2 separate regions of the Homo sapiens genome follow, and region 1 is linked to region 2. The links come from fine-mapping of genetic effects on gene expression. A gene starts in region 2. The other region holds a variant in brackets. All regions are shown on one strand. Distances are between the middles of the regions.

Region 1 (5,376 bases), 27 kb before region 2:
TAGAATTTATTACCACCTGACATTGTTTATATATGTGTTATTTGTCTGCAACATTTCACAAGAATGTAAATTTCAGGAGGGTAGAAACTTTGCCCTGTTTTGTTCATTTGTATCTCCAGGGCCTAGAAGAGTATCTCTGGCTCCATAGAAGGTGAGAGATACTTCTTGAATAAATGAATGAATAGACACCTATTATTTACACATAGCAAGCTCTGAAAATATTTTGTTGAATGAAGAATGAATGAATGAAGAATAAACCAGACTGTCCAGGAGCTGGGGATACAGCGCAGAACAAGACCAAGTCCTGCTCTTGGAGCATACATTCTTTAATTAAAATAAGGTTTATGACTGGATGCTAGAGTCACGATAGATGATGTATGGAAGCACAGGCCTCTTGGAGTCAGCTTCTGTGTGTTACCTTTATGGTAGCATGCTCTTACAGAAGACCATTCCAGGACAGAGTATAACATGGCCCATGGGTTGAACAAACCCAGGGGTGTTTTGTTTCCATCCTTATGTTTATGTTTCAATTCTAGAAGTCCTGTCAGTTTCCGTTGTGCCTGAAGCCTTTCCCAGTCGTTTCTCTTTATGAAAAACATCAACGGAGGTTGGCGTCTGTGGGGTATATTCCAAGACCTACAATGTATGTTGTTAACCCAATTCCTTCAACCAAAGAAAATATTGTCCTAGGTTTTTGTTCCAAACAAAGAAGGTAATTTCTTCACCAACTGCCATTTTCACCCCCATCCCCCCAAATTGACGATCTGGGGTCCCACGCTCTGCTTGAGTCAAGGGTTGGCACACGACTCAAAGCTTCTGTCCTGAAGCTGTGTCACAGTCTTGCCACGCTGTGTTTGCATATGGCTGCTAGGAATCAGCTCCATGAGACCACACACAGGCATCTCACGTGAGAGGGAAAGCTGGTTCAGAAGCCACGTGGGGAGACGATGCCACATTGCTCCAGAGGGCTACAGATTTATGAACAGTTTAGCTGGAGAGAGAAGCAAGTCTTCTGAGAAAAGATTCAGGAAAATGTATTGCCAATTAAATGTGGGAGGCTTCATTCAAGATAAAGATGTCTCACGCTCACACATGAGAGACTGATTGTTAATCCCCTGGGCCTACTGGTAGGACCAGCTTTGCATTTTATGTGACGGAGGAGGTACTGATTTCCATGAAGAAGTCAAACCCTGGCCCTATTAACACTTAGACTTGAACCTGAATAGATCTAGAAAGATTCCTAGGAAGCAAAATGACAGATAAGGTGATTAAGCAAGTGGATGCATTTGCCATTCTTTGAAAATGTAATTTCCTGGACTTTCCACCTGTGACCCACCAGGGTGACCATTCAAGTCTGTCAAGTGCTTTGGGGCTGCAGCTTGGAGCCGAGTGGCTCTGCACACTAAGAGAGCTGGGCCGTGCTGGGAAAGTGGATTGGAGTTGATATAATAAATAGTTCCTCATGTATATGCCAGGGGATTTCTCCTCTCAGCCGCCTTCCTTTCCTGGCCATGGAAGGAAAGGAAGTCCTGTCAGTTTCCTGAGTCAGGGGTGCTGTGTTGAAACCAGAGGGGATGGTGTCCATTAGATAGTTCCCAAAAAGAATTAGACTTTGTCCCTCAGGGAAACTGGTAGTGAAAGATGTGATTTTCAACAGAAATTCCTGGCCTAGATTTCTAACCCCACAAATCCTACCTCAAATCAGGCCACTTTCCCTCTTTTTAAATCATAACTTTGAGTCTCATCTAGGGAAAGGGGTATAGAAAGACTAAATTCACGCTTTAAAAAGTAAAGGTAAGCATGGACAGGCTTCCGGTGCTAAGCAATGCTGAAGCTCCGGTTTGAGTCCGCAGCACTGGCAGTGAACGGGGCTCATGACCAATGACAGTCCTGCCTTTCCACGGACAAAGTCAGGAAGCCTCATGAGGAAACAGACCAGAGGAGGCCAGAAGGGCAGAAGAAAGAGAGGACCCTGCAGGAATGTTCAAATAAACTCCGTGGAGTCCTTAATGTCCTCATTTTTAAAGAAAAGCAACTTGAACCCAAGGAGACTTTGTCTGAAGCCACAAGGTTTAGATCTCACCACAGCCCGGAGTAGAACCCGTGTCTCCCACTTCTGGTCCATCCTGACTCTCCTCCCATGAATATCTCCAAGAGATGGAGAGGAGCGAGCCAGCCAGAGCCCAGGATCAGCATGTGAGCATGAAAAGGAAGGGAACTCGTGTGAGGAGACAAGTGGTTGGATTTGGCAAAGAACTGAGAAAATATAAAATATGGCTGAGTAAAATACAAGGTAATCTCATTTTGGCAGAAGCATTGCCTTTTTATTTCATGTTATTAAAAATCATATTCTCTTGCTGACCATGAAACCACCTGGAAGCAGGGGTGCTAAAATAGAAAACCTACCACACACCATGTCGCCTCAGGGAACCGCCGTCTCTGAGAAATTTTCCAGACTCTCTGTTATAAGTGGCTTGAACTCTCAAACCTAATATCTCTTGGGTAATACAAAAGAAGTTGTTTAAACCACCAGAGTACTGGATTACTCACCGATCTGGAATTTAGTGAAAAGGTAAACCATAGAGTTTAAGTATGGTGCCTTCTTGCCCCTCACAATATTTGACAGAGTTTGCAAAATACTTAATTCCTTCCATTTCTGCTTTGTGCTTCTAGAACTTATCCTGGTTTGTGTGTGGACTGTCACTGGGGAGAAGAGAGCAGAGAGAATCGGGGAGATATGT[C/T]TGAGCTGATCTCCCTCATTTTCATTTGGATGTTTCATCTGCTCTAAGACTAAACATATCACCCTTGATAGATTGGCAGCAGGAATTTCTTTTCTGTTTGGAGTGGAAATGAGATGGGGAAGAGAACAGCTAAAAAGGAAAGCTGGCTAACTATTTAGGATACAGCAGCTTCAAGAAACTTTAAAACATATACAAGGAGGCATTTATAGAGTGCTTACTAAGTGTCAGGGAGCATGAGACACATTGAGTGGGATGTAGGGTGAGTCAGACCCTGCCCTCATTGGGACCACCATGCCCTCCCAGGTCCCCATAACCAAGTATAATCAGAAGCAACTTGTCCAGAGCTGCATCTTGGTGGTCTGGGGCAGTATCCCAGATGTGACTTATCAAAAGAGGCCTGTTTAAGCCATTTTTCACAACTGTGCAGCCTTGACCATTTGAGATAAGTAGCTAAGTGTCTGATGTTGAATCCTCTCTTTTATGCTCAACCCCAGAAGCGCTTATTGTTCACATTGTCCATTGAGACACACAAAGGAGGGTTTAAAAAATAGTTACCCAGGAGGTTGCTTAGTCTGAAGGAAGCCTGGAAAGGCAGTGGCTCATGTACTATGGGTGTCTATGTGTGCAGGCGTATGCCACGTGCATATGCAGCTACAAGATCACTGTCTAAGGGAGAGACACGTAGATGCCTATGCAGGATGGCGGCCCTGAGAGCTGCTTCCTTAGAAGTCAGAAGGAAGAGGCAGCATGATGTTGTGGGGAGCACAGGATTTTGTACTCATAGTTCTTCCATTTATGGGCCCTGTAATCTTGAACAAGTAATTTAATATCTCAGAGCCTTGGTTTCCTCATTTGTAAAATGGGAACAATTGTGACTACTTTATAGGGTTTTATGAGGATTAATTGGAATAGTGTTTGAACGTACCTAGCACTGAGCATAGCACAAAATACGGTAGACATTTGGGAAATGTACGTTCTGCTCCCTGCTTGACTGAATCCGGCTACTTGTAATAAAGGAAGACAATAGGAGTGCTACAGAGATAGGCCATCCATTGTCTTCTCAGATCCTGACTCTGCCAACTGGAGGCAGTGTGTTGAGAACGCAGAGCGATGGAGGGGGAAGCAGAAGCCCTCTGTTCTGGTCCTGATCCACTCACTTCCTGACTAGTTGACCTCAGGCAAGGCACTTAACTTCTCTAGATGAAAGTTCTCTCATCTGTAAAATGCCTGTACATAACTCCTAACGTGACTGTAAAGATCAATTGAAGGCATCAAGATTAGAAAGGAAGAAGTAACTGCCTTTATCTGCAGAAAATATGATCTTGTATATTCTTGTATGCAGAAAATCCTCAGGAATACACAAAAAACTTTTAACTAATAAACAAATTCAGTAAGGTAGGAAGATAATTACAGTTTATATACTGCAAAAATAAAATTCTGAAGATAATTCCATTCACATTAACGTCAAAAAAAATAAAACATTTAGCAATATTTAGCAAAAGAAGTACCAAATGTACGCTGAAAGCTACAAAGCATTGCTGAAGGAAACTGCAACAACCCAAATACATGGAAAGACAGCCCATATTCATGGATCAGAAGACTTAGTATTGTTAAGATGGCAATACTACCTAAGTTGGACTACAGATTCAACACAATCCTTATCCAAATTCCAGCTGGCTTTGGCAAAAGTTGACATGTTCTTCCCAAATTTAATATGAAAGTACAAGTGACTTGGAATAGCCAAAACAATCTTAAAAAGAACAAAATTAAAGGATTTATGTATACTGATTTTGAAACTTTCTACAAAGCGTGGCAATCATGATAGTCTGATCTCACCATAAGGATACACCTAAACATCAAGAGATTATTGGAATAAAATTGAGAGCCCAAGAATAATCTCTAATATTTATGATCAATTGATTTTTGACAAAGCTGTCAGAAATAGTCAATGGAAAAGGAATAGTCTTTTTCACAAATAGTGCGGGGACAACTACCTCACACTGTATATAAACATTAATTCAAAAGGGGTCACAAACTTAAATGTAAGAGCTAGAAATTTTCTTTGTCTTATAAGAAAACATAGGAGTAAATCATCACGATGTTGGGTTAGGCAATTATTTTGTAGTTATGACACAAAAAGTACAAGTCGTAAAAGGAAAAGTTGATAAATAGGACTTCATCAACAATAAATGCTTTTGTACAGCAAGACATCCCATGAAGAAAGTGAAAAGACAACTCACAGCCTGGAAGAAAAATACATGCCAATCATATATCCCATAAGGAATTTATATCTAGCATATAGAAAGAACTCCTACAACTAAAAATAAAATGACAATCTAATTTTTAAAATGAGTAAAGGGATTTGTATAAACATTTCTCCAAAGAAATTATCACACAGTCCACAAGCACATGAAAAGAAAATGCTCAACATCATTAGTTTTTAGGGAAATGCAAATAAAACAACCATGAAATGCCACTTCATAACCCTGGAATGGCTTTGATAAAAAAGACAATAATGGCTCTTTTATCAGAGTGGCTCTAATTTTAAAAAGATAATAACAAGTGTTGGTGAGGTTGTGGAGATGTCAGAACCTCACACATTGCTGGTGAAAATGTAAAATGGTGCAGCCATTTT
Region 2 (5,376 bases):
TTTTGCCTGAAGTCTCCAAGCAAGTTCTCCCAGCTCAAGGGCCAGCATTCTTTCCAACAACTCATCACTCCTCGTTATGCAAAGGGAAGAACACCAAGGGCTTTCTGTATTCTGAGCAATAATTCGGGTAATGAAGTGAGAGCTTAGCCTCTCTTGTGAATGCTGAGGAACCCTAAAACAGCATATCTTTTGCTTCCAAAAAGATCTAGCATAGCAATTTTGTTGGTTCATAAAATGCTCAAATGCTCAAACCATATGTTTAGCTACAATTCCCAATGGCTATATCCTTCTTTATATGAGTAAAAGAGGAGGTTTTCAGCATCAGGTGGAAAAATAAGTATGGGTATTGGGGAAAATAGTCTAAATTTAACTCTGAGTCAGTTCCAAGACAGTGGAGGTGATACCAGGTTCATGGCCTGGCATTTCCCAGCCTGCGAATTCTGCTTCAAGTCTGCAAGTCTGCCCAGTAGGTACAAGACAAATCATACCCAAGGACATTTGTACAGAAACATGAGCCTTGCTAGATCCCTCCCTTGTGCAGGGTAGCTTCTATGAAACATATAGACCAAGCAGACTTCCACATCAGTGAATACATTTGGCCATCTGAAAATACAGAGACTTAACACATATGGAGACCTGTGGCTTCCTCGGGCCAGCCTCAGTTTGAAAGCAAGGGTGAGATCTTTGTCAGACACTCACGGGACCTGTGCTGCCCATAAAGGAAGGGGCCCTTCTCTCAGGACAGCACAAGGGAAAACACCCACAGCCGGAAAAGAAGGTGTGTCTCAGCATGACGGAGGCTGTGTGCAAATTATTCCTTGTGCCAATATCAGGAGTGTGGATCTGACAAACAAAAGGCCATGTCATTGGCTTAGTGTCTCTGTGGAGTCTGTAATGGTCCTTTTACTTACTTGAGTCCTTTCTAAGATGGATTTTGTTCATTTTCCACTAAGATTGCAGAAGCTGCACGTGGCGTGGCAGTTTATGAATTGGGTCCCCTGGCAAGGCTCTGAAAGACAGCTGGAGTGGGGGTGGGCTGTGTGTGTGAAGCCGCTGCACAGAGCTGGAGTCGGCTGTCCACACAATCACGTCTATGTGAGAGCCGGCAGCCTGCAAACTGCTTCCCTGCAAGGGGAGACACATGCCAGGGGAGGGCCAGAGAATTTTGTTAATTCTGTTTATCTTAGAGACTGTTTTTTTGTCTGCTGGGGGAAATAAAAAACAAATACATAACTTCCTTGCTTGTGTGCAGTCTGATTTTTTTCTCTCTCTCATGCCCTCATTTTTATTTCTCCGAAGTATCTCTCCCCTTCAGTTTGGGGCATCAGTTTATGGCATTTTTCCGTACATGTGTATATAGTATCTATGCACAAAGTCAGAGATATAAATGTCTGTTTTAGACTCTTTTGGCTTTAGTGTTCTGTGGAGGTCCATGAGATATCAGAGATCTCATTTTCTTTCTGTTAACATAATTAGCAGAGCTCTCTCTGTGCTCAGAGTGCATAGCTGAGTCCCGCATAACCAGCAATAACAGTGCATTCTTAGCAGCCTCCCTGGATAGTTTGCTAAATTCTTTCTGAGAGCCTCTCGCTGCCTTTACAAAGGTTATAGCTGAAAAACAAACCAGAAACTGGGAATCCAACTCTGTGAGCAGAGAGAGGGCTGCACATTCTATTATCGCACGGATAGAGGCTCAGGTTCATGCAGTCGCGTTTGGAGTCCTGGCAATTTCAGATGAAGGCCGTCCTTAGGAAAATCAGCTATCCCAAGCCCAGGCAGTCTGGGTTAGCCGAGGTTTTTGTTTGTTTTGTGGAGTTTTTGCTGGTTGGTCTTTTGTAGATGCTGCAAATCACAAATGGGGAACCTGAACGACACAAGCTTTTTCTTCTCCGTATCATTTTACCTGGCCAAAAAGGCAAAAGAAGGGGAAGGTGGCATTGCTAAGTCACAGGGAAGGATATGACCTAAACATCCCCCCTTCCCCAAGTAATCCGGGAGCACCACTCCCCTCTGAGGACCCCACAGGTACTTTCACAGTCCAACACACTGAGAAACAAGCCCACAGGGTGCCAGGATGACATGACCACAGAGAAAAGGGACAGAAGGAGTTTGGGACACATGCACGGACACCTGTTGCTTTTGCAGACTTGAACTTAGAAAATATGAGCCTCATTAGAATTTCTCTTTCTAAAATAAACGACCACTTTTAATATCGTCAAATATCATGTACTGCTATAGTTCTCTGTCCTCCGCACTGAGAATCCAAAACAGGTCCTTGGGATAACTTTTGGGAAACAATACCGCCACGAAAACAAAAGTCTTCTCAGCCAAGAACACAGATTTTTTTTATCTACCTTTGATGTCCCAAAGGACTAGAGAATCCAGAGCATTTAAATAAGACTCCAATGCCAGGAGCTCACTGTTCCCTGCTGGATGCCAGCCCTCCCCTCCCTGCCCAGAAGAGGACATGGTACTCACCAGTCATTAGGGTATAATAATTGGGATACGAGAGACTAGGGAAGTCTGGAGTCAAGTAATCCACTTTTACTCCCCTGCTCACAATCTCTTTGAAACCAGGCAATGACTCCAGCGCCTCATCACTGATGTAGTCTGAGCGAAAACCATCCAGCAGAAACACCAGCAGCTTCCGGCGGGCAGAGGCTGGCTGGGCCAGGCCCAGGGCAAGGGCCAGCAGGAGGGTCCCAAGCTTCACTGCCATGCTGCCAGGAGCCTGCCAGAGCCCGGCTGGCACAGCTGTCGCCTTGCAAAGACTGAGGATGGAGAATCTGTAGCTATTCTCTCTTCCAGGGGCTGGACCTTGAGCCGCTGGCCTTCCTGAGTCAAGTTCACTTGCAGAATTTAAAGGAACAGCACCCCCTTTTCCACACATCTATGCTCACCCTTTACTAGAAAGTCCAGAGACCGACTCCTTCAGATAAACTGGGTTCCAAACAACCCAGAATTAACACCAGGGGAGAGAGTTCAAACTTATTATTTTTGGTGAACGTTCCAGAAATACAAGCACCCACAGAGGTGGAATTTTAGAAGATGACAAAGTCAACACTAACTTTGCAGTTGAGCTAACCAAAGGGAGGAACCAAGGAAAAGGGCAAGATTTTAATTTGCTGTTATCCCACATCATGGCCTCATTTAAACTCTTTTTCACTTAGAATTTAGTAACGCAAACCTCTGGACTCAGTGCATAAACAGGAAACAATACGTTTCGGTGGGCCCATTTGTAAACTTCCCAGCTGTGTCTCTGTAGACACAGCACTTAAAAAAGTTATTTGTCTATGTCTTGGCCACTTATGTTTTTATATGCAGTGTTATTATTTGTTATTATTTTATTTTTCAAATGTGATTTAGCTGCTGGTGCCCATAGGAGGAGGTGGTTCGTAGAAGAGCCCTAGAGCCAATGAGAAGCTTCCAGAGTTGGACAATGGGAAATCATTACTGGCAGAATGGTCTGAAGCAGCATTGCCCCAGGAGGATGGAAATGAAATAGAGAGCTGGAGATTGAGAGCTTGAGATGGAAAAGCAGAGCTAGAAATTACCATGCAGGCTTTGGGACCGAGAAGACTAGGCGGAGTGGAAAATAGGAGGAGGTTAGTGACAGGGAGGCAGATGTGAGCTGGGGAGCAGACAGAGTTAGCACAAAGTACCCAGAGTCCAGGGGTTCCCTAGAGTGGCTCCGTCATGCTACATAAAATTAAACAACACAATTCATGTGAAGGCTTATAAAACATGGCTGAGTGCAGTGGCCCACTTTGGGAGGCCAAGGTGGAAGGATTGCTTGAGGCCAGGAGCTTGAGACCAGCCTGGGCAACACAGCAAGACCCCATCTCTATAAAAAATTAAAAAATTAGCTGGGCCTGGCGGCACGTGCCTGGTCCCAGCTACACAGGAGGCTGAGGTGGGAGGATTGTGTGAGCACAGGTGGTCATATCTGCAGTAAGCTGTGATTGTATCACTGCACTCCAGGCTGGGCAACAGAGTGAGGCCCTGCCTCAAAAAAAAAAAGACATAAAACATGCATGGTCCATAGCAAGTGTTGAACAAATGTTAGATGTTATTCGCATTATAACATTGCTTGTCTCCTGAGGAAACTTGCAGGCTCTGGGCAAACTTTCCAGGGAAGGAAGATAGACACCAGCCACACCAGCCACTCTCAGTCAACCCCAAAATCCCTCTTCCACCTCTGCCCTCTGCTTGTGTCTTTTCTCCTTCTCTTTTTCTGTTGTATTTGAGTCAAGCCCAAACACAGGATCACCATGTCACTTTTTAAATTATGCTGCAAAAGAGAAACACATTGGCCAAATTACCACTCCCCTCTCAGGGGACTTGGCCAAGGATCAGAATTCTTTTTTCCAATAAGAGGTAATGCTTTTTATAATTAAATTTAAATTTTTTTCTTATTAAAAAATAAGGAAAAGGGGAGTTTATCCTAAAAGGTTGTTACTTTGAAAACAATGTTATTCTTTTTTCTTTGAGCTGTGTGGTATTGTTGCTATAAACAGAGAAAAAGAAAAGAGAGAAGAAAGAGGAAAGGAAGGAAGAAAGAAAGAAAAAGGAAAGAAAGAAAAGTAAACGAAGGAAGGGAGAAAGAGAAAGAAAGGGAAGGGAAGAAAAGGGAAGAAGGAAAGAGAACAGAAGGGAAGAGAAGAAAGGAAGAAAAGGGAGGAAGGGAAGGAAAGGGGAGGGGAAGGAAGGGGAGGAAAGGGAAGGGAGGGAAAGGAAGGGAAGGGAAAGGGAAAGGGGAAGGGAAGGAGGAAAAAAAGAATAGAAGGGAAGAAGGGAAAGGAAGAGAAAAAGGGAAGAAAAGCGAAGAAGGGAAGGGAAGGGAAGGGGAGGGGAAGGGAAGGGAGGGAAAGGAAGGGAAGGGAAAGGGTAAGGGGAAGGGGAAGGGAAGGAGGAAAAAAGAATAGAAGGGAAGAAGGGAAAGGAAGAGAAGAAGGGAAGAAAAGCGAAGAAGGGAAGGGAAGGGAAGGGAAGGGGAGGGGAAGGGAAGGGAGGGAAAGAAGGGAAAGGAAAGGGAAAGGGGAAGGGGAAGGGAAGGAAAAAAAAGAATAGAAGGGAAGAAGGGAAGGGAAGAGAAGAAGGGAAGAAAAGCGAAGAAGAGAAGGGAAGGAAAGGGGCGGGGAAGGGAGGGGAGGGGAGGGAAGGGAAGGGAAGGGAAAGGAAGGGAAGAAGGGAAGAAGAGAAGGAAAGGGAAGGTGAGGGGAATGGAAGGGAGGGGAGGGAAGGGAAGGGAAAGGAAAAAGGGAAGAAGGGAAGAAAAGGGAAGAAGGGAAGAGAAGAGATGGGAAGAAGGGAAAGGGAGGGATGGGAAGAAGGGAAAGGGAGGGATGGGAAGAAGGGAAAGGGAGGGAAGGGAAG

Which allele goes with the higher level. Positions count from the first base shown, and alleles are read on the strand shown. Sizes are in standard deviations (SD) of each study's normalised expression.
For the expression in tibial nerve of the gene that starts at base 2,773 in region 2, C is the low allele of the variant in region 1 and T is the other (small effect, 0.21 SD a copy in GTEx).

The links. PIP is the estimated chance that this variant, and not a neighbour inherited with it, causes the effect. A credible set is the group of variants that fine-mapping cannot tell apart.
Region 1: its variant is the best candidate, but not a certain one, in a credible set for the expression of ENPP6 in tibial nerve (GTEx, PIP 0.77).

The regions. Positions count from the first base shown.
Region 1 is chr4:184,187,686-184,193,061 of GRCh38, forward strand. The region is part of intron 1 of ENPP6 (ectonucleotide pyrophosphatase/phosphodiesterase 6); the gene reads right to left. Among named protein-coding and RNA genes, the nearest start is that of ENPP6, 27 kb to the right of the region's middle. The variant C/T (reference allele first, on the strand shown) is at 2,742.
Region 2 is chr4:184,215,101-184,220,476 of GRCh38, forward strand. It overlaps ENPP6 (ectonucleotide pyrophosphatase/phosphodiesterase 6), which reads right to left and starts at 2,773. Exons shown (of 8, transcript NM_153343.4): 1 at 2,479-2,773. The coding sequence starts at 2,719.